3 separate regions of the Homo sapiens genome follow, and regions 1 and 3 are each reported to be linked to region 2. Evidence: microRNA targets listed by miRTarBase, many of them from high-throughput screens and not tested one by one. Region 2 holds a microRNA gene; each other region holds the end of a gene's coding sequence.
What was found. The annotated mature microRNA hsa-miR-6757-3p reads AACACUGGCCUUGCUAUCCCCA and lies in region 2 at 2,860-2,881, opposite strand. An mRNA with a match to its seed (bases 2 to 7 or 8) in the 3' UTR can be bound and repressed. Matches are read on the target gene's strand: a 7mer-m8 pairs with bases 2 to 8, a 7mer-A1 pairs with bases 2 to 7 and ends in A, and an 8mer does both.

Region 1 (7,125 bases), not on the chromosome of region 2:
GGAATAGGCTTTACTGGGGGAAGAGAAGACAACAAATCATCAAGAGAAGCAGCATGGGTTCCTTGACCCTCCTCTCATCACCCTCCCCACCCTGCTGGGGGTGGGGGTTTGCCGCGAGGGTGGGGAGGGCCCCGAGCCAGAGCAGCCGAGCGCTCTTCCAGTGTGCATTCCAGTGGGAGGGCCTTCCTGCCATCACGCTGCCTTTGTGTAGAGCTGGCATGAAAAAGCAGCTTTGTCAGTGGAGGTACCCCAGGCTGCTTGGCACCATGCAGTCTAGATTTGGGGTGCCAGCCCATTACAGGAGCTGTCTGAGAACACCAGCATTTGAACACCCTAGTCCTGTAGACATCGCAGTGCCTCCCACTGGTGGAGGGGGCTGGGGAGACGGAAAAGCATGCATGGAATACTCAGAAGAATCCCCAGTCTCCTGGTGAACTGAGCGTGGATGTGCCCCCTCTTGCCAGGAAAAGGAAGGGCTATTCCTAGTTAGCGCATTCTGCAGGCCACCCAGAATGAAAGTCCAAGCTCACGTTAAGACACTCATCCGGCCGGGCGCGGTGGCTCACGCCTGTAATCCAAGCACTTTGGGAGGCTGAGGGGCGGATCAGTTGTCAAGGGTTCAAGACCAGCCAGGCCAACATGACGAAACCCCGTCTCTACTAAAAATACAAAAATTAGCCTGGCGTGGTAGAGTGAGCCTGTAATCCCAGCTGGAGGCTGAGGCAGGAGAATCGCTTGAACCCAGGAGGCAGAGGTTGCAGTGAGCCGAGATTGTGCCACTGGACTCCAGTCTGGGCAACAGAGTGAGATTCCATCTCAAAAAAAAAAAAAAAAAAAGACACTCACCCATTCTACTAGGCATTACAAGCAGGGGGATCCCCCATGCCCTTACCAGGACAGCACTCGGCTTTTAACCTGCCCACAGCCCCTCTCACACATAGCCTGGTAGTAGTGTTATTTAGGTTCCTGCAAATCTGTTTTTTTTTTTTTTTTTTAGCAGACATGGTAACCAACATCGAAGTGCCTCTTGCACTCTAATTCACAGCTTCCAAATTTCAGAGACACCAGACATGCCAAATGCATCTTGCCTTTCCTCAGTATGGCCCACCTGAGACTTTAGCAAAAAAATATTCACACACTTGAGGAAGCCTAACCATCCGCTGGAAATTAACTGGATAAGCTGCCCTCAGTGGGGTCAGAGGTCAGCTTAGAGCAGGTCAGGTTAGAACATGAGAAGGTTGGTGAGCCCAGCCCCACACAGCTATCACAAAAGTCTGTGCCATGAACTTCACAAAGTAGGTTCACCTCAAGGTTCAGTGGAGCCTTCAGTGTGTCCTTAGCCAAAGCTGTTTGGAAAAAATTGTGACATTGGACACCAGGAATGATTCCAAGATTGCAAAGGAAGAGTTGAGATAAATGGAGCTAAGAGATGTATTGATTCATACTTTGATTCCAACAACCCATGCCCACTCACATGTTACTCACCAGATGCCACATACACACTTAGCCACACGCACGTTCACACTCTCACATGCATCCATTTGGTGCCTGCCCACGTCCATTGCCAAATCCCATACTCCAGGTAAAGGGAGGTTGTATGGTTTCAGTCTCTTCAGCTATGAAGTGGCCTTTCCTAGAAAAGTCCAGTTTTTGCCTGTTAGTCCATCACCTGATCTTGGTAATGGGGGCGGGGTGCCCCTTCATTGGATCACTCATAAAATATGCCAGGGATCTGCTTCAGTAGGCCAAATCATTACTTTTTGTTCTCTCTCTTTTTTTTTTGAGACAGAGTTTCACTCTTGTTGCCCAGGCTAGAGTGCAATGGCACTATCTCAGCTCACTGCAACCTCTGCCTCCCGAGTTCAAGCGATTCTCCTGCCTCAGCCTCCACAGTAGCTGGAATTAGAGGCATGCACCACCATGCCCGGCTAATTTTTTGTATTTTTAGTAGAGACAGGGTTTCTCGATGTTGGTCAGGCCGATCTCGAACTCCTGACCTCATGATCTGCCCACCTTGGCCTCCCAAAGTGCTGGGATTCAGGCATGAGCCACTGCGCCCAGCCTGTTGTATTATTTTCTAGTGAACTGAATCCCCTGTCCTCTCACGTCTTACTTTTATATCCCAGGAGTCCAGTGTTCACCTTTAACGTGTCCAGCAACAGCTCAACACACCCCAGGAGAAGCTGGGTTTTGCTGATTCTGGTTCCTGACCTTTGGGCACCTCCAGCAACCTTCAATAACTCCCTTCTCTTTCTCTCTCTCCACACACACACACACGCATGCATGCACGCACACATACACACGCATGCACGCACGCACACACACACACGAAATCATGATTATCCTTATCTGTTCAGCTCAGATAGAATTAAATCCACATTTGGGCCTCGCACTGTGGCTCACGCCTGTAATCCTAGAACTTTGGGAGGCCAAGGTGGGCAGATCATGAGGTCAGGAGTTCGAGACCAGCCTGGCCAGAATGGTGAAACGCCGTCTCTACTAAAAATACAACAACAACAAAAAAAATTAGCCGGGCATGGTGGCGCGTGCCTGTAGTCTCAGCTACTCGGGAGGCTAAGGCAGGAGAATCGCTTGAACCCGGGAGGCGGAGGTTGTAGTGAGCCGAGATTGTGCCACTGCACTCCATCCAACCTAGGTGACAGAGCGAGACTCTGTCTCAAAAAAAAAAAAAAAATTAAATCCACATTTTACAAGCATCTTACAAAATGGGGCCTCTACATCTGAAGTGCATACAACTGGAGCAGGAGGGGTACATTTTTGTCACGGGTGAAAAAACAAAACAAAAACAAAAAAAACTAGTGGATATGGTGGTTTAAGTTTAATGAATACATGTAAATTTATTTTAATGCATTCAGGTGACTATGTCATAATAACTTGTTCAATATACTGAGTGATTTTAGGCTAAGGAAGGATTTTTTCAAATGAAAGGGTTTGGATGGACACTCGGTGACTCTCTAAAATATACTCTTCAGAGGAGGTAAAAATAAATACGTGAAGGTAAAACGGCAGGGTGGGGGTGGGGAGAATGTGAGGCTGTTGTGTGCAAGGAAGGGCGGGTATTCATACTGAAACTGCAGAACTAAGCAGGTGACAGCTGCACACCGCTCCTTTCCCTGGCCGGGCTGCCCCAGCTCAGTGACATCACAGACTGTGACGAACCCAGACGTATTTGGTGGAAACCAAGCCACAATCTCAGAAGCAGCGCACAGTTTGAGTAGAAATGAGTTTTTTTGGTTTCTCTTCCCTAATACCCACAGAGCCCCTACACTCCCGTTATCCTCGCAGCCCCTGGCTGACTGTGTCCGACCTAACTTCTCGCCCCCTGGTTTCAGAATATCCTGGCAGCGGAATAGAGGGCGTTGGGGGGCGGTGCAGGCCAAAACTTTTTGGGCTGCCCCACCCATGCCTTTCCGGTTAGCGTTGCAGCTCCTTAGACGAGTAGGCTAACCACAGCCCACCCGCCTTTCTTCCAGCGATGCAACGATCTGTTCGCCGCTCAATGCCGCATGCTGTTCAAAGCCCAGAGGCTGGAGTGGGTGCGCCCCAAAGGCCCCGCCCAAGGAAGGGCACGCTTGCGTGCTCGCGGCGGCGGCCATCTTGGACTCGGGCAGCCGCCCACTTCTAACCTCTATGGCATCGCTCCGGGAGGGAGGCGACCCCGCACTCTGGGCCTCTTAAACCTGTGCTCGCGAGCCCCACATTGCTCTCCGGCCTCCACGTAAAACTCGAGCCAGTTTCCTGGTGGCAAGTCCTCACTCCTTGGGTGACTCTGAGAAAGCACCCGTTTCCTTATCTGTAAATAGTAGTTTGAGTACCCCCACCCCCGTCTCCTACCTATTATTTGGGCAGATGATGAACTCTCAGCATAAAGCCTGGCACACAGTATGTGTTCTATAAATGTTGTCTGTGAGCTTTTCCTGTACACTGCGGGGTGCCTTGTAGCAACCACCTTCCAGCCACCACTGCCTGCAGCGCCGCCTTTTCCCTTTTCCAAGATCGCGTCTGTACTAGACTCTGAAGACCTTGTGGAGGGAAAAGGGGCTTGGCAAGCCCACCCCAGGAGGGTGAAGGTGAAACTCACGAGTTCTCTTGGACTTGCATGTGACCCTTTTGGAAGGGCGTCAGAAACACAGACCAGGGTGCCCAGGACTGGAAAGACTGTAGATTTTGGAACATTTAAACGCCCCCATGCTTGTTATTTTTATCACCCCTGGCTGGGTACCCATAGGGACTCCCAAGCAGCATAAAACTAGAATGAAAGCCCTGCGTGTGTGCTGACTGTGGAGACATCAGGAAGGGGGAGCTGGGACATTGTGTCCCAGGCAGAGCTAAATGTGGGGGAGAAGGGCCTTTTGGACCAGCGTGGGTGGTAGCCCCAGGGTGGGAGAAGAATTCAGCCCAGGTCAGAGGTAGCCTGTGGGGGTCCTCAGATATGTGCAGCTGCTCCACCAGCTCTGTAGCTAAAGGACCTCCCAGACTTCCTAAAGGGTGGAAACTGCATGAAACCCAACGAGATGAGAGAAGTTCATGGGGAGGGGCGAACGCCTTCCATCGGAGTGGGGGCTGCAGAACCATACTCAGGCCTCTATGGGATTCTAGAGGCCTAGTGTGAGGTTTTATTCAGTAATAAGCCAGATGTATGCCAGGCGTGCCCAGGTTCCCACAGTCTGGCCTGATGGAAAGAGGGGTAGCAGAGAATACAAAAACTAAGTCAGGGTGAGGGGATTGCACAGTTTATTTCCAAACACTCAGAGGATAGGGGGTGGCCTATGGGCTCCATCTGCCTCCCCTCCCTGCATTTGGCTGAATCAAGAACTTCTCCCCCCTGACCCCCAAGACCCTAGGCTGTGCCCAATAGAGAAGGCACTGTCACCCCCCACCCTGAGGAGACCTAGACAGGTGAGGAGCATGGAGGGTGGGGGAACAGAGTTCAAGTATTCACAGTTCCCCCATCTACACCCCTGGATTACACTGTGCCAGAGCCATGAGGGAGGATCCCACCTCTGGGATTCCTAGTGGTGTTGATAGTCCTTCTCCCACTTAGAACCCTCCAGATGAACTCCCTACTCCTTTTCCCTGATATAACAAACCAAGTCCTAAGCCCTGTAGTCTGGGCAAGGAGGAGCCTTAGCAGGCCACTCACCCAAGGCCCCCAGGGATGGGGGTGAGAGCCTTCACCTGTAGTGAATGGGTTGGGAGCAAGTGTCTATAAGGAGAGAGGAAGGGAGAGAACTGAGAGGACCTTGGGAGGCAGGCTTGGAGGCTTCTGACACGTGAGTTCAGACAGCTCTGGTCTGCGACTCCACCCCACCCCACACCCCAAGCCCAGAATCCCTGAGAGTCCAACTGCAAAGGCAGTATGGCCGGAGGGAGGAATGGGAGCAGGGGTAGAGTTGAGCAGGACCTTGGCCCCCCTCTCCTAGTAGGTCCTGCTCCTGGGACACATGCTTAGGGACGGCCAGGACCAGGCTCAGGTCCTAGTCCCATCTCTTAGGGTGCTGATCTTCCAGAATAGCTGAATCCTGGGGAACATAGACCCACCAATCCCCACACCCCAGACGTCCTGGCCTCAGGTAGAATGGTGGGAATGGGCTCTCACAAGGGTATTATAAAAAGCTAAAACCGTTAAACACTTTCTGGGGAGAAGTGGCTCCCAGTCTCTTGCCTCCCCAAGTTATCAGTCTCCCCAGCGCCTAGCAGACAGGGCTAAGGAGGTCCCAGAGAGCTGAGGGAGGAGACGGCCACAGCCCCTGGGCCCAGAGAGAGGGCCCACTAGCACCATGCAATGTTGAGGTGCCTCTGCAGCCTGACTGGCCCCCACGCAGGGGCCCTCCGAAGCTGGAGTGCACACTTGCTAAAGCTTCTGTACTCTTGAGGGGGGACCCCTGCAAGGGAACAGAGAAGGCAAAGACTTCGCTTAAGTCCAGGCAGGGGTCTGAACCGGGACCCCAAAGGGCACCCTTGGGAGTCATGATTTGAAGAATCTTCGTACCACAAACTGGCCCAACAGAACCACACCCAGAACCACCAGCACGTTCAGGATGGGACCATTGCCCAAGTTCAGGGCTGCCACCTGCCGGGAGAAACAAGGTGGTCACAGAGAGGCTAGCAGAAGATATAGGAACCCGAGGAAGGGGTGGGGCCTGGGAGAGGGGCAGCCCCAACAGCAGGGAGGACATTGCAGTCCTTGGATACTCACCCAGCCACCCCTCTGTGCAATCCACCGGGCAATGCAGTGATGCAGCATGAAGTCGACCACGAAGCGGGTCACCTGGCCTAGGAAGCCAGTCAGGCCATGCTGGTAGACGTGTAGGGCCAGACGGTAGCCGAAGCCCAGAAGAGCCACCACACGGCCCCAATTGATGCCACTCTCAAACAGGCTGTGGGCAGAGCATCCCATAGCATTGGTGGAGAGCCCCCAGGAAGCCCTTCAGCCTGCCTGGCCTCTCCCACCCCTCTCCCAGCTGGAAGCTAAATAGCTTAGCTGTGAATTAAGGCCGCAGAGGCTGCCCCAACCTGGCCTGTATTTGGGAACAACCTGGGTCTCTGCGAAAGGAGAAAGCTCAGGGGCAGATGAGCTGGATGCCACTGCTGGGGTGTACGCTCAGGTGCAACGGGGCACAGAGAGGGCAGAGGGCAGAGCAAGTGGATGGAGTCAGCGGGGAGATTACCTGTGGGTGTTGCTGCTGGCCTGGCAGCCCGAGGGACAGCAGAGAGAAAAGGACAGAAAAGATTAGGGTAGTTCCTGTCATCACAGTGGTATGAAGGCTGGCCTCTAAGTTCACGGACTGGATATTTCAGCTCTGAGCACTAATTCTAAAATCTATCACTTACTCCTACCTTCACCTCCAGTTTCAAATCTACTCCGACACTGACTTCCCTAACTCTGGTGGTAGCAATGGCTAACACTTTGTAAGGTGGACACTAATCTAAGCATATTTTCCCTATTTTACAAACCAGGAGACTAAGGGCTAGGAAGCTTCACGAAGGCAGTAAGTGGCAAAGCTTGGATTTGCACCCAAATATTCGGTGTCTTTAACCACTTGGATGCCAGATTATAGCAAGTAGGAGCCATTTCTAGGACCTGGCAGAGGTTAGCACCCT
Region 2 (7,188 bases):
CCCACAGGCAGGCAAGAGCAGAGGCAGCGGGTGCCCAGGCCGCACTGGGTGCAGGAGAGGCTTGCCAGCCTCACTTGCCCACCCTTCTCCAGCCTCCCTCTCCAGCCGCAGTCCATACAAGGCTGCTGTAGGCAGCGCCAGCTTCTCCTCGCAGGCTGGGCATGGGTATAGGGCAGGCAGCCCAGGGTCCTCCAGGATGACCACCTCCCGGTAGCCTGGGGCGCGGTAGCCAAAGTCCCCAGTGGCTGGTTTCCCCATCTCAGGTGGGTAGGGGTATAGCCCCTCTGACAGCGATCGGCAGAGGCGCCTCTTCTCCATCGAGGCCTCGGCGTAGCCCTGGGGGGATCCCTCATAGCCCCCGTAGGCCAGTCGCCTCCTCTCCAGGGTTCCCTCTGGCCGGTAGTAGCCCCCATTGGGAACCCCGCAGGGCTCCCGGTAGCCCTGGCGGCAGGAGCAGTGGCGGCTGAGGCCAGGCCTATGGCCTGGATACACTCCGAGGTGGGGGCCTCCGCCCACAGTGGGCTGCTCTTCGTCATCTAGGATGGCCGTCTCGCGCCCAGCTCCCCGGCCCCCACTGGCCACTCCGCAGCCTCCTAGGAGGCGATCCAGCTCCTGCCGTTCAGCAGCTGTAGGGGGCGGCCGGCCAGGGGACTCAGCAGCCGGCTCTGTGGTCAGCGTGGAGGAATGGCCTGAGTCGCTGCTGACAGAGAGCATGGGGGGTGGTGGAGGCTCTGGAGAGGGTGCCGGGGGGGTCTGCCGGGGAGGCCGCTGCACCTGGGCATAAGGACTGCCATCCAGGGGACCCCGGGTGTGGGTCAAGGAGCCTGAGTGGGGAAGAGGATCAGGGAGGGAGGGCAAGCGGGGAACAGGGAGGGAGAGAGAAAATTCATGAGAGGGGATGGCACTGGAGACAGCTGTCGGGCCGGGGGTGTCTCTCGGGAGTGGGCTCTGCCTGGGGAGGAGGGAGTGTGCTTCTCCCTGGCACCACCCCCCAGGGTCCCGCCACAACCCTGTACCTCCCACCCTGCAGGCTGCCTGCGCACCATCCACACTGTCCTCGTGGTGCTGGTTGAAGTTCTCATAGGAGTCCCAGCGCACGGCTGGCTCAGTGGTGTTGTAGTCGACAGAGACCGAGGGGTCGTTCCGTGGAGTGCTGCCTGTGGAAGGCCACTCGGGTATTGGGGAGCAGGGGAGAGGCGGCCCTCAGTCCCCAGCCCATGTCCCTGCTCTTACCTTTGATCTTCTCGGGGCTGGAGGAGAAGACAAACTCCACGGAGGCTTGGAAGGGGAACCTCTCATCTATGGGGAGTGGACAGTGAAGAACCAGGCCCCTGGCCCATACCACACTCTCCTGCCTGCCTGCCACCTGCCTGCCACCTGCCTGCCACCTGGACTCCAGCCCCAGGCCACTTGTCTCAGACTCACCAGTCCAGGCCTCGTCAAGCTGGTCCTTGGGGAAAGTGAGCTGTGGTCCGTGGATGGTGCAGGTGTGGAACTGGACTCGGAACACGAGGGTCCGGTCTGTGCCCCGGCCACCCTTGTGATAACATGTTACCTGGGAGAAAGGCAGGAGGCTGCGGATCAGGCCTCATGTCCTCTTCTGCGCTTCCACCCTGGGGACTGCCTGGTCACAGCTTCTGCCCTGCCTCGATCTCAAGGTGATCTCCCTACTCGCTCTCCAATCTGTCTCAAATTGGTGACTGTGCCGTTACACCACCAACCCCTGCCCCATCTCCAGGATTCTTCTTGTTGACAGGACCCCCCTCACCATGACATCGCCTTTGAGGAGGAGGGCTGGCTCCAGGCTGATGCAAAGCTGCTGGGGACCAGGGCCTGCAATGTGACTGTGGGGAGAGAGGAGAAGGCAGAGATGAACCAGAAGCTCCTGCGTGCAGAGGCAGCTATGCAGTCAGGGGGAGCCAGGAGACCAGAGTCTGAGCCCTGCCCAGGTGTCTAGGGAGGCTGGAGAAGCAGGAATGCAGGAGCAAGAGGGGCCCTGGTCATGAAGTGTCAGGGGCCTGGGAATAGAGCACTCACTAGACTCCAGATGTGTAGACAAGCTGCATGGACTGGTAGATTTTAAGGAAGGGCTGGAAGCCTGGAGGGGCAGAGGAGAAGGCACAGGAGGGGTGCTGAGTGGAGAGGGCCTGAAGGTGGTTCTCCCTAGGGAGCACATCTCAGGCAGACTCACCTGTGCCAGGTTCAAAGGCTGGCAGCATGGGGATGAGCACATAGTGCAGGAAGAGAGGGCTGCTGTTCATTCTGATGGAGCCAGATAGCAGCCCACTGAAGTAGCTGATATATCTGGTGGAGGGCGTGTCAAGGAGAACATAAGCCTTTTCCTCTGGAGGTCACCTTGTATCATTTCAACCATCCACCCTTAGAAGGCTCGCTCTTCTGCTCAACACTTCCTTCCCATCTTCCGGGTCACCAGAAAGTTCTTCCTTGCATCTAACCTCAATCCCTCCTGCTCCCCTCTGCCTCAAAGCTCTTTCCCCAGAGCTCTGCTTCACTTTATAGTGGCAGGCCCTGACTGTCCTTCAGGTTCTCTTTATGACTGATCTCCTCGTCTATTTATTCCCAGGTCTACTGCCTTCCACCCTACTAGCATGAAAGCTCCATGAGAGCAGGGGCTTTGTCCACTTTGAATTCTCAGCACCTGGCACGGCGCTTGGCACACTCAGTGAAAGTGTGCTGCATGAATAAGAGAGTCTTGGCCTTGGTAGCCATGAAGGGAGCTGCTCCTCTGGCCCATCCCCACCCAGGCTGCTCACCGACGCTGGGAGGGCTGCAGTTCTGTGGCCACCTTGTCCTCGCAGAATTTCCGCATGGTAAGAGTGGCCAGTGCCTGGTCCGCCCTGGGGATAGCAAGGCCAGTGTTGGGGATTAGGGATTAATCTTCATCCTGGCCTCCCATCCCTAAGCCCCAGGGGATGGAGGAGAAATATGATTCTCTAAGTCTAGAAGAAGCCCAGAGTAGTGGTAATGAGAATGAGAAGCACCATGTACAGTCACTTTACTAGTTGTTGGGCCTCAGGCAATTGTTCCCTGAACTTTAGTTTTTTCATCTGTAAAACAGGGCAACAAAACCATCTTATGGGTTGAATTATATCCCCCCAAAAGACATGTACCTCAGAATGTGACCTTATTTGGAAATAGGGCCGTTGCAGACATAATTAGTTAAGATGAGACCATACTGAAGGAGGGTGGACCCTGAATCCAATATGATTGGTGTCCTTATAAGAAGAGAGGAAGAGACACAGACAGAGACACACAGGGAGAACACCATGTGATGACAGAGGCAGCGATTACAGTGATGTGTCTGCAAACCAAGGAATGCCAAGGCTTGCCGCCCACCACTGGAAGCTAGAAAGAGACAAGGAAGGATTCCATCCCGAGTCTCAGATGGAGCAAGGGCCTGCTGACAGCTTGGTTTGGGGCTTCTGGCCTCCAGAACTGTGAGAGAGTACATTTCCACTGTTTTTTGTTTTGTTTTGTTTTTGTTTTTTTTGAGACGGAGTCTGACTCTGTCACCCAGGCTGGAGTACAGTGGCACCGTGTGGGCTCACTGCAACCTCCGTCTCCTGGGTTCAAGCAATTCTCCTGCCTCAGCCTCCTGAGTAGCTGGGATTACAGGCGCCCACCACCACGCCCGGCTAATTTTTATATTTTTATATTTTTGGTAGAGATGGGGTTTCACCTGGCCAGGCTAGTTTCAAACTCCTGACCTCAGGTGACCTGCCCACCTCAGCCTCCCAAAGTGCTGGTATTACAGGCGTGAGCCAACGCACCCGGCCCATTTCCACTGTTTTACACCACCCTGTTTGTGGCTGCCCCAGGAAACTCTACAGACCATCTGCTGCAGACTATGTTGCAGTACTAGTGATAAAAGGGAGGTGGAAGTGCTAAGCTGACAGCAAAGGACTCTCAACGAAGAGGTGGGCTCCAGGGGAGATGGGTTCCTAAGGGGCCAGCTGGAGAAAGGGCCACTGGGGAAGCAGCTACTCAGGCGCTGGGAGCCTCACCCTGCAGAGATCTTGCTGTAGTGCATGTAGGCAGAAACGATGACCCCAAGCTTGCCCTTGTTTCCCTGACAGACAGAGAGACAGGGATGAGGGTCTGGGAGCTCCAGGCTGACCTGGAACCTCCAGGCACCAGGGAACCCGAGGTCCTGGCCCACCTTGCAGTATAGTACGACCACGTGCTGTGGGTCAGCACTGAGCCATGTCTCCATGGCTTTGCAGATGGAGCACAGCTTGTCCAGGGGTGGAGCATGCAGCTCAGGCCAGCCGAAGTCTTGAACCTGGGGAGAATGCAGGGGTGCAACTGGGGCCGGGGGCCACCAACAGAGAGAGATGGGCAGGGTGGAAAGGGGACAGGGCATAGGGGTCCGGGGGCAAGGCTGGGGGTCTGCTGGTTGTCCATGATAGCCTCGGCACTTTCCTTATCCATACAATGGGCTGATACCTGCTGCATCACGTTTTGGGGTGTCTCCAGTAATATATCATGGGAGAGTGGGAAAGTGCTTAAGAGTGAAGTAGATGCCAATTGCTACTATTAATAACGAGGAAGCTGGGGGCTTCTGGGGTTGGGGTGGCTTGGTTTAATGGTTGGGCAGGCCATTTCCTTCATACCTTGGGGTTTAAGCGGGTCAGGTCATGCCTTTTCTCTGAAAGGTTGAAGAGCTGAAATAAAGGGGGAGGGCTTTAGACAGAAATGATCTCCGGCAATGAGGCACGAGGTGGAGGTGGATCCTAAGTAAGAATCTTCCTCTAAAATAAGGTGCAGGCCGGTCGCAGTAACTCACGCCTATAACCCCAGCACTTTGGGAGACCAAGGCGGGCGGGTCACCTGAGGTCAGGAGTTCGAGACCAGCCTGGCCAACATGGTGAAACCTCATCTCTACTAAAATTACAACAATTTGCCGGGTGTGGATCGCTTGAGCCCTGGAGTCTTGAGACCAGCCTGGCCAACATGGCGAAACCCCGTCTCTACAAAAAATACAAAAAAAAAAAAAAAAAAAAAAAAAAATTGGCTGGGCGTGAGTGACGCACGCCTGTAATCCTAGCTACTGAGGCTGAGGTGGGAGAATCGCTTGAGCCCGGGTGGAGGAGGTTGCAGTGAGGTGAGATCGTGCCACTGCACTCCAGCCTGGGCAACAAAGTGAGACCCCGTCTCAAAAAAAAGGTAAATAAATAAAGAAAATAAAAAGGTAGCTAAGGCCCGGCCTAGCCAGTCACAGCCAAGTCGCCAGCGTTCCAGGATTCTCCGCTCCGCTCCAGGCCGCGCTCCGGGCCCCGCCCCCACCCCACCACTCTGGTCCCGCCCCCTGGCGGCCTCGCCTCCGCTGGTGACGTCAGTGATTAGCCTCGCCCATCTGGACCCTACATCCCTCTCATTGGCGGACTCCTGATGGCCCCGCCCCTCACCAGGTACTTGTCCCGGTGCTTGGATTGCAGCACATGGGCCAGCTCGCGCAGGTGGCCCCGGTGCCGCTGTTCATCGGGCCGCGCGGGGAAGGCGGCGGCCAAGATGCGCTCCGTCACGTAGGTGAGGTCTAAGTCCCAGCGCCGCTCCATGAGCGGGTCCAGGCTGAAGCTCCTGGGGAGGAGGAGCCTACGCATGAACGCAGGGGCGGGGCACCCGGAGGTGGCTAGTGTGACGGGAAGGCTGTCTGTTGGGCAGCAGGTGAAGCCTGCTGGGTCCTGAGGGTGGGTGGATCGGTCTGGAGGGAGAATACCGCTTTGGGGGTGGGGGGCTGTCCCGGGGAGCTCTGTTGCGGGGCAGTGCCCTGGGCTGAGGTGTGGGGCCGGCGGAAAGGGGGTCACGTGGGACCACCCCAGCACCCTCACTTACCTGGGCAGAGTGCTGCGCTGCTTTGAGTGGTTCAGAGATTTGGTGGATCCCTGGTGGTTAACAGACAGTGTCTAGACATCTCTTTGGGTACCCCCTACTCTAGACTGCCCACTCCAGAGCCATGCCCTTTTTGTCTTCAGGAAATCTAGATCCTTACTCCCAAAGCTACCTGCTTCCCCCTCCTGCTCCAGCATCACCTTACCAGGTGCTCTATGCGCCTGACTGGGGCCGTGTTTCGCCGCTAGAGGGAGATGGGGGAGGAAAAGGGAGTGGTTAGTTACAGCAGGGGCAAGGACCAATGTGGGCCTTGGGGACAGGGGAAGGGAATGTCAGTGTCCTTTTGAAGGCTGTACTGGATAAGGGGAGAGGAGTCCTACCCCCAGCAGGCCCAAGGGCACAAGATCAGCAGAGGACTCAGACAGTTTTTTCTTTCCTCATAGGATGAGCAATACCCACAGCACTCCGTTCAAGGTCATCTCCTGGGGGCCCTCTCTGGAGCCACCAGACCTCTGGACACCATGGCCAGGTTCCTTGCCCTCCCCACCCCATCCCAGAGCGCACTCACCAACTCCACGGGAGGCAAGGCCTGACAGGCTGAAGTCACCTGGAAGGGGACCGAGTAAGGAACTGAGCTCCTGGTGAAGGGCTCTCGTGGGCTTGAGGATGGGGCAGCCCCTCAGCTTCAGGAGGAAGGTGGAGGGGCCTTCAGTGGATGGGCACAGGCTCCAGCTGAGGTTGCGCTATTTAAGGGCACCTCCCCTCTGGCCTCTTGGTCCCCCACCCCCCAGGCCCCCCACTTGTTGCTCTTGGCGCTCAGCCCCCAGCCCACACAGACCCCCATTCATCCAGCTGTAGGGCAGGAGTTATATATAGAGCCAAGCAGGCAGGCCATGGCCAGGGATGGACACTGGCTTCTTTCACCGGGAGACCCCGCCCCTGGGCACACAGCTCCCCCAAGCCAGCTCCAGGGCCCTGGGATCCTCCTCCCCCTGTCCTGAAGGAAGAGGACCAGGGGACCTCTTCAGAGACAGGGCTGTCTCAGGTCCCCAGTGGACAGTGGGTGCTATCCACAGCTTATACCTGGAAAGGCCCAGTTTTTCCAGGGCCCAGGACAAGACCCGCCCAGGCATTTTGAGGACCCTTCCCCAGAGGGAAGGCACAGCCCATCCGGCTGCCCAGTCTCTGAAATCCTGCTCCCCCACTCCCCACCCACCCCACCCTTCCTCCTCCTCATTCTCCTCCTCTTCCCCACCCCCATCCTCTCGCCAGCTGCAGTCTGGGCACAGCACCAAGACAAACGCTGTCTTGCTGTCCACCCGCCTGGGCTGGCCA
Region 3 (7,125 bases), not on the chromosome of region 2:
CACATTTATTTATTTATTTTTTGAGATAATAGTCACGCTTTCTCACCCAGGCTGGAGTGCAGCGGTGCAATCTTGGCTCACTGCAACCTCCACCTCCTGGGTTCAAGCAATTCTCAGCCTCCCGAGTAGCTGGGATTACAGGTATGCGCCAACACGCCTAGCTAGTTTTTTGTATTTTTAGTAGAGATGGGGTTTCCCTATGTTGGCCAGGCTGGTCTCGAACTCCTGGGCTGCAGTGATCTGCCCGCTTCGGCCTCCCACAGTGCTGGGATTACTGATTGTGAGCCACCATGCCGGGCCTTATTTCTAAGGAGATATGTATGTTTTTGTTATGTCTTTTCTGGTTGTGAGATCATCTATATGTGTTATGTGTGCAGGGGTTCTTATTTTAAGCTAGGTATCTACGTAGGTGAGAGTGAATATGGGATGCATTTATCTACAGCTGTGTGTGCACTCTGTCTAAAAGGTTTGTAACTGGGGCGTTGTGAACCAAAGATGGGCCAGGAGTCCTCGGGTATGCATAGATTTCAAACAGAGCTGGGTATGCATGGATTTGAAACACGCAATGCTCCCACTCATGGAATGTAATCCTAAACACATACGGCAGTTTTAATAGTGATAACCTCCTTTTTTTCAGACAGGGTCTTGCTTAGTCACCCAAGCTGGAGTGCAGTGGTGCAATCTCGGCTCACTGCAACCTCCACCTATTGGGTTCAAGCAATCCTCCCACTTCGGCATCCCGAATAGCACCACAGGCATGCGTCACCACACCCAGCTAATTTTTTTATTTTTTGTAGAGACAGGGTTTCACATGTTGCCCAGGGCTGGTCTCGAACTCCTAAGCTCAAGCAATCTGCCTGTCTCAGCCTCCCAAGGTGCTGTTATTACAGGGATAATCTTTTTTCTTTAGGAAGAAGGGAATACTTACTGAACAGCTAGTCCATGTTAAGCACCATTTTAGGTACTTTATAGCTATTATCTCCTGTAAGTAATCATTACTACTAACCTAAACAGGTATGAACTGGCCCAGTTTTTTTTTCTTTTTTCTTTTTTTGAGACAGAGTCTTACTTTGTTGCCCAGCCTAGAGTGCAGTGGCGCGATCTCAGCTCACTGCAACCTCTGCCTCCCAGGTTCAAGCAATTTTCCTGCCTCAGCCTCCTGAGTAGCTGGGATCACAGGCGCACACCACCACACAGGGCTAATTTTTGTATTTTTAGCAGAGATGAGGTTTCACCAAGTTGATCGGGCTGGTCTTAAACTCCTGATCTCAAGTGACCCAGCCTCACCCTTCCAAAGTGCTGGGATTATAGACGTGAGCCACCGCGCCTGGCCTGAACTGGCCCATTTTTTTTTTTTTTTTTTTTTTTTTGAGGTGGAGTCTCACTCTGTCGCAGGCTGGAGTGCAGTGGCATGATCTTGGCTAACTACAACCTCCACCTCCCCGTTTCAAGCAATTCCCCTGCCTCAGCCTCCTGAGTAGCTGGGACTACAGGCGTGCGCCACCACACCCAGCTAATTTTTTTTTTGTAGTTGTTATTTTAGTAGTATTTGTGTGGCCCAGCACAAATTTGTAAACTTTCTTAAAACATTGAGTTTGGTTTTTTTTTGTGATTTTGTTAGTGTATTTTATGTGTGGCCCAAGAAAATTCTTCTTCCAACGCGGCCCAGAGAAGCCAAAAGATTGGACACCCCTGGCAGTAGACTATTACCTCCTCCCTCAACTTAAAATCCTTTTCTGGTTCCTTTGTGCCTGGAAGATAATAGCACAAATGTCCTACACATTCCACCTACTTCTTTTTCTCCAATTATCTCTCTTAATATTAAAAATACTCTGTATTGGTCAGGTAGGATGGCTTATGCCTGTAATCCCAGCAATTTCAGAGGCGAAGGCAGGAGGATTGCTTGATGCGAGGAGTTTGAGGCCAGCCTGGCCAACATGCCGAAACTCAGTCTCTAGCCTATAGTCCCAGCTACTTAGGAGGCTGAGTGGGAGGATCACTTGAGCTGGGGAGGTCGAGGCTGCAGTGGGCTGTAATTGCACCACTGCACTCCAGCCTGGGCAATGAAAGTGAGACCCTGTCTCAAAAAAAAAAAAAAAAAAAAATTCCCTGTATTAATCTACTCCAAGTTTCCAAGAGACACCATGCTACTTTAGGTGGCTCTGTCTTGGTAAAAATGTGCCTCTACTTCAATTGCCTTGCTGACTTGTAATGATGATGATTTTTTTTTTTTTTTTTTCAAGAAATCAGCCGAAGTAGACTTTCAGGGATCCACCTTCTTTGGGAAGCTTTCCTTCATACCATGTGCCTACTCCTGTCCTTGCTTTATTGTCCTGGCATTGCTCTCATGCTGTTTACATGTGTGTATCCCTTTCCTAAGCTGTAAGAGCCTCAAGGCCAGCACAGCGTCTAGCACATAGTGAGTGCTCATCAATTGTACAACCTCTTATAAACTACATGAAAATACATCATTATTAGATTGTAAATAAAAAATTGTAAAGTCTGCATGTAAGAGAATGTTATCCGGGTAATGTTCTCGTTATCTGTAGAGATGGCCGTTCTATAAAAGCTGCTTTGGAGTCATTTTCATGACCACAAGTCAGTCAAGTACTCAGTACAACTTAGACAAATGCAACAAGTAAACCTTGGAGTAGATGATTCTGGATTTTAAAATACAGATATAAAGGATATTTTTGAGACAATTAGAGGAAAAAAAGGTGATATTTATGATATCACTATCATATTTATGATAGGTGATATTATTGAATGAATGTTAACTTTCTTAGGGATGATAATGGTATTCTAGTCAGCTACAATGTCTTTTATCTTAGGCAGTGAGTACATGCTTAAATTTTTAGGGAAAAAAGCCTCATGTCTGTAACTTGTTCTCAACACTTTTTTTTTTTTTTTTTTTTGAGACAGGGTCTCACTTGGGTTGCCCAGGCTGGAGTGCAGTGGTGTGAGATCAAGGCTGTCTGCAGCCTTGACCTCCCAGGGTCAGGTGATCCTCCCACATCAGCCTCCCAAGTAGCTGGGACCACAGGTGTGTGCCACCACACCTGGCTAATTTTTGCATTTTTAGTGGAGATGTTTCGCCATGTTGTCCACACTGGTCTCAAACTCCTGGGCTCAAGCCATCTGCCCGCCTCAGCCTCCCAAAGTGTTGGGATTACAGGCATGAGCCACTGTGCCTGGCCTCAACGAGTTAATTTTTGAAAAGCATACATACACAGGGAGATACAGCAAATGTGGCACAATGTTAATTGATAAGAAGTGTGAGTAACTTTCAACTTCTCTGCATATTTGAAAAATTTCAAAATAAAATGTTTGAAGGAAATGCTAAGAACACAACAACAAAACCCAAATCTTTTGAAATTTAAGCATCAACATTGCTTTTGGCCTCTCTCCCTCCTAAACCTGCAGAAAAGTACCTCCCATTGCCATGTTCACACCACCACATTTCAATCAGGTTTGTGTTTTAAAGTTGAAAGCCACAGTCATCCCTTGAAAAACACTCTATACTTTGCTCTCTTAGTTGACCAACCGTTAATTTTTATTTGTGCAAATGACATTACATTAGACTTTAGAAGCTTAAGCAAATAAAAATGTGCTTCCCAATTGCTACGTGTAATTCCTTGAGATCAACTATCAGAGACTTTAATCTGAGACGACTTGAGGTGATAAGGAAGCAACAGAAGTTGGCAGCAGTCTTGCTTTAATCCTCTCAGAGTTGCCAAGTTCCTGGCAAAACCTAGTTATTTGTTATTGCTGTGAAGGTAACGCTGGAGCCCAAAAAATGATACCCCAAATGAAGGCCGCAGAAGCAAAGTTTCTCTGCCCTCCTGTCTGTTGACCCTGATTCTTCCCCAGGTGAGCCATAGAAACTAGAATTCCTCTTCTCCAAGACCGGCCATAGAAGCCAGAATCCCGTTTCCTGAAAGCCAGCCATAAAACCTAAATATATTGCTCTTAAATTTCCCCCACCTTTCTATGTAACAGCTGGCCATAAAGAAATTAAGACACTCATTCCAGAGGGATCCCACCCCCACACCCAGCAGAAGGAAATGCTGCAGACAGGCCTTGGTGAGCTTCCCCATGTAGTCTATTCTGATAGCATTAGGACCATATCCTTTTTGTCCATATTTCTACATGTCCAATCATATTTCTACATCGACTTTTCATTGAACATAAGCATAAAAATGAACAGTTTTCCCTATATCTTTGGGTCTTCATTCTGAAGGCTACCATGTCAAGTAAACTATAAGTGTGTTATGCTTTTTCTAGTTAACCTGTCTTTTGTTATAGGGGTGTTAGCCATGATCCAATGGGGAGGGAAGGGATCACTCCTTTCCTCAAGTGATCAGGCAGTTGGATCACTTGAGGTCAGGAGTTCAAGACCAGCCTGGCCAACATGGCAAAAACCCTGCCTCTACTAAAAATACAAAAATTATCCAGGTGTGGTGGTGGTGCATGCCTGTAATCCCAGCTACTCAGGAGGCTGAGGCACGAGAATTGCTTGAGCCCAGGAGGCAAAGTTTATGAGATGGTGCCACTGCACTCCAGCCTGTCTAGTCTGGGTGACACAGCAAGACCCTGTCTCAAAAAAAAAAAAAAAAAAAAAAAAGTTAACGAACTTAGGTACCTACTTAGGAGAACCAAAAATATATGGCCACACAAAAATTTGTACATGGCTGTTCATAGCAGCATTATTCATAATAGCCAAAAAGTAGAAACAACCCAAATGTTCATCAACTTACCAATGAACAAAAATGGCATATCCTTACACTGGAAGAGTACTGTCAGAAAAAGTAATGAAATACTGATAATATAAACATGGTACAACATAGATGACTCTTAAAAACACTATACCAAGTTAAAGGAGCCAAACCCAAAGGTCACATATTGCCTGATTCCATTTACATGAGATGTCCAGAATGGGCAAATCCATAGAGACAGTTTATTAGTATTTCCCTGGGGCTGGGAGCAGAGGGGTTGGGACTAGGGAAATGACTGCTAATGGTACAGAGTTCTTTCTGGGGTAAGGAAGATGTTCTGAAAGTAGATGGAGATGGTTGCACAACTTTGTGAATACGCTAAAAACCACTGAATTGTTCAATTTAAATGGGTGAATACTATGACATGTGAATTATATCTCCATTTTTTTAAAAAAAGTTAATGAAAAGCAACTTTCTTCTTATTTCATTTTTAGGGACAGGCAGGGGAGCCCAGCGGCATGCTGGATATGAATGTATCTTCAGCCTTCAAGTTACCATTGGCCAGAGGGAAGAGTGGCCCCAAACTCTGAAGAGCGCTGGCAAGGCTCCCCATCTTCCTCTCCCTAGCCTCCACAGGAACATCACAGTATGGCTTGGCATTTTTTTTTTTTTTTTGAGACGGAGTCTCACTCTGTCACCCAGGCTGGAGTGCAGTGGTGTGATCTCAGCTCACTGCAAGCTCTGCCTCCCGGGTTCATGCCATTCTCCTGCCTCAGCCTCCCGAGTAACTGGGACTACAGGCGCCCGCCACCACGCCCAGCTAATTTTTTGTATTTTTAGTAGAGACGGGGTTTCACTGTGTTAGCCAGGATGGTCTCAATCTCCTGACCTTGTGATCTGCCCGCCTCAGCCTCCCAAAGTGCTGGGATGACAGGCGTGAGCCACGCGCCCAGCCTGGCTTGGCATCTTTAGGGCAGATCTCAGTATGCCTTGCATTCCAATTCATCTCCAGAATCCTACACTTCCTCCAAGGTCAGTCCTCATGCGAGTCTCCAACCTCATCCCCACTTCATTTTCCTCATTGTACTTACCATCTTTTATTCGTATCCCACCAAATTTTGGCTTTGTTAGCTATACTGCAAATAGTAGATGCTCAATAAACTACTAGTGAATGAATGAACTTGGAAAAAAAAGCTTACACAGAAATCTGTACTGGATGTTATTTAAAAGATGAAATTTCATGGTTCAAATGTATTTTTCTCCCATAAAAATATTTTCTCTTCCATTTAAATATATACCTAATCTTTGAGAAATCTTGCACAAATGGCATTTTATTAAAGAAAATCTAATTTACAAAGCTTTGTAAATTTTAAGAAAAACATTCATAGATCATAAACAAAAATTTCAATATGCAATATTCAAATTTACAAGAAAATAAGCACAAACTTTTAGACAGTGCAGTTATTGCTGCACTCCTTTAATTCCTTATCCAGAGCCCAAAAAATGTAGACAAACCCTAAAAATGTAGCAGAAGCATTTCCGCACACTGGTGTCCAGAATCTAGTTTGTGCAGAAATGTTTCCACTAGATTTATAGAGTACTCTTCAGAAGAAAGAGGCGAGGGCTCGTCATTTGGTCACCCTTTGGACATTTTGCAACTCTTCAATGGGTTTCCATTGTTGGTTGATTGTTATAAGCTGAAGAGAAAAAAGGAAAAAAAAAAAACCTTTTGTTAAAAATTTGACTTTCATTTGCATGTCCCTCTTTCGGATTTGTCCACACTCCCCTTTAGAAAAAGCATCACCATTGTGTTTGTACCTACCTCTTTCCATATCTAAAACATGCACAAAATAGTAATGTGAGCTGGTTTCTATCAGTCCATCTTTTTACAAAGCCCTTGGGCTCCTAAGTGTTATGAGATCAGAGGGAAAGATCAAACACATGTGCCCTACTTTCACTTAGCAGTATCCAGATTTTTTTTTAAGACAGTCTTGCTGTGTTGCCCAGGCTGGAGTGCAGTGGCACAACTGCAACTCACTGCAGCCTCCGCCTCCCATGTTCAAGCAATTTTCGTGCCTCAGCCTCTCCAGTAGCTGGGTTTACAGGTGCGTTCTACTACACCCAGCTAATTTTTGTATTTTTAGTAAAGATGGAATTTCACCATGTTGGCCAAGCTGGTCTCGAACTCCTGACTTCAAGTGATCCACCCGCCTCGGCCTCCCAAAGTGTTGGCATTACAGGTGTGAGACACCGTGCCTGGCCGGTATCCAGATTTTTAAGTTTGCCAGGTATTATGTGAGCCATAGTTCCAAAAGTGTATATGCTTCTCATGAGTGGATGGACAATGCTCCTGGCATAGAGTAGGCTCTTAAAATTTCCTCATTTTAATTACTCGATGAAGGCACAATTG

Region 1: the mRNA of BAK1 is a reported target of hsa-miR-6757-3p. Seed matches in the 3' UTR shown: 7mer-A1 at 4,989-4,995.
Region 3: miRTarBase lists COXFA4L3 as a target of hsa-miR-6757-3p. Seed matches in the 3' UTR shown: 7mer-m8 at 6,259-6,265.

Annotation. Positions count from the first base shown.
Region 1 is chr6:33,567,814-33,574,938 of GRCh38, forward strand. It overlaps BAK1 (BCL2 antagonist/killer 1), which reads right to left. Exons shown (of 6, transcript NM_001188.4): 5 at 6,221-6,401; 6 at 4,739-6,094. The coding sequence ends at 5,990. Among named protein-coding and RNA genes, the nearest start is that of BAK1, 8.9 kb to the right of the region's middle. RefSeq lists an enhancer at 3,604-3,893.
Region 2 is chr12:53,052,683-53,059,870 of GRCh38, reverse strand. MIR6757 (microRNA 6757) reads right to left here and starts at 2,927; the gene lies at 2,859-2,927. TNS2 (tensin 2) reads right to left here. Exons shown (of 29, transcript NM_170754.4): 4 at 6,422-6,460; 5 at 6,059-6,097; 6 at 5,857-5,906; 7 at 5,430-5,601; 8 at 4,635-4,685; 9 at 4,181-4,303; 10 at 4,026-4,090; 11 at 2,775-2,858; 12 at 2,192-2,304; 13 at 2,038-2,098; 14 at 1,769-1,844; 15 at 1,426-1,555; 16 at 1,234-1,299; 17 at 1,044-1,157; 1 more. It overlaps TNS2-AS1 (TNS2 antisense RNA 1), which reads left to right and starts at 5,433. Exons shown (of 4, transcript NR_033854.1): 1 at 5,433-5,550; 2 at 6,297-6,475. RefSeq lists an enhancer at 6,151-6,390.
Region 3 is chr15:45,432,235-45,439,359 of GRCh38, reverse strand. COXFA4L3 (cytochrome c oxidase associated subunit FA4L3) reads right to left here. Exons shown (of 5, transcript NM_197955.3): 5 at 6,020-6,412. The coding sequence ends at 6,344. MIR147B (microRNA 147b) reads right to left here and starts at 6,310; the gene lies at 6,231-6,310. It overlaps LOC107987223 (a long non-coding RNA gene), which reads left to right. Exons shown (of 2, transcript XR_001751510.2): 2 at 5,210-5,891.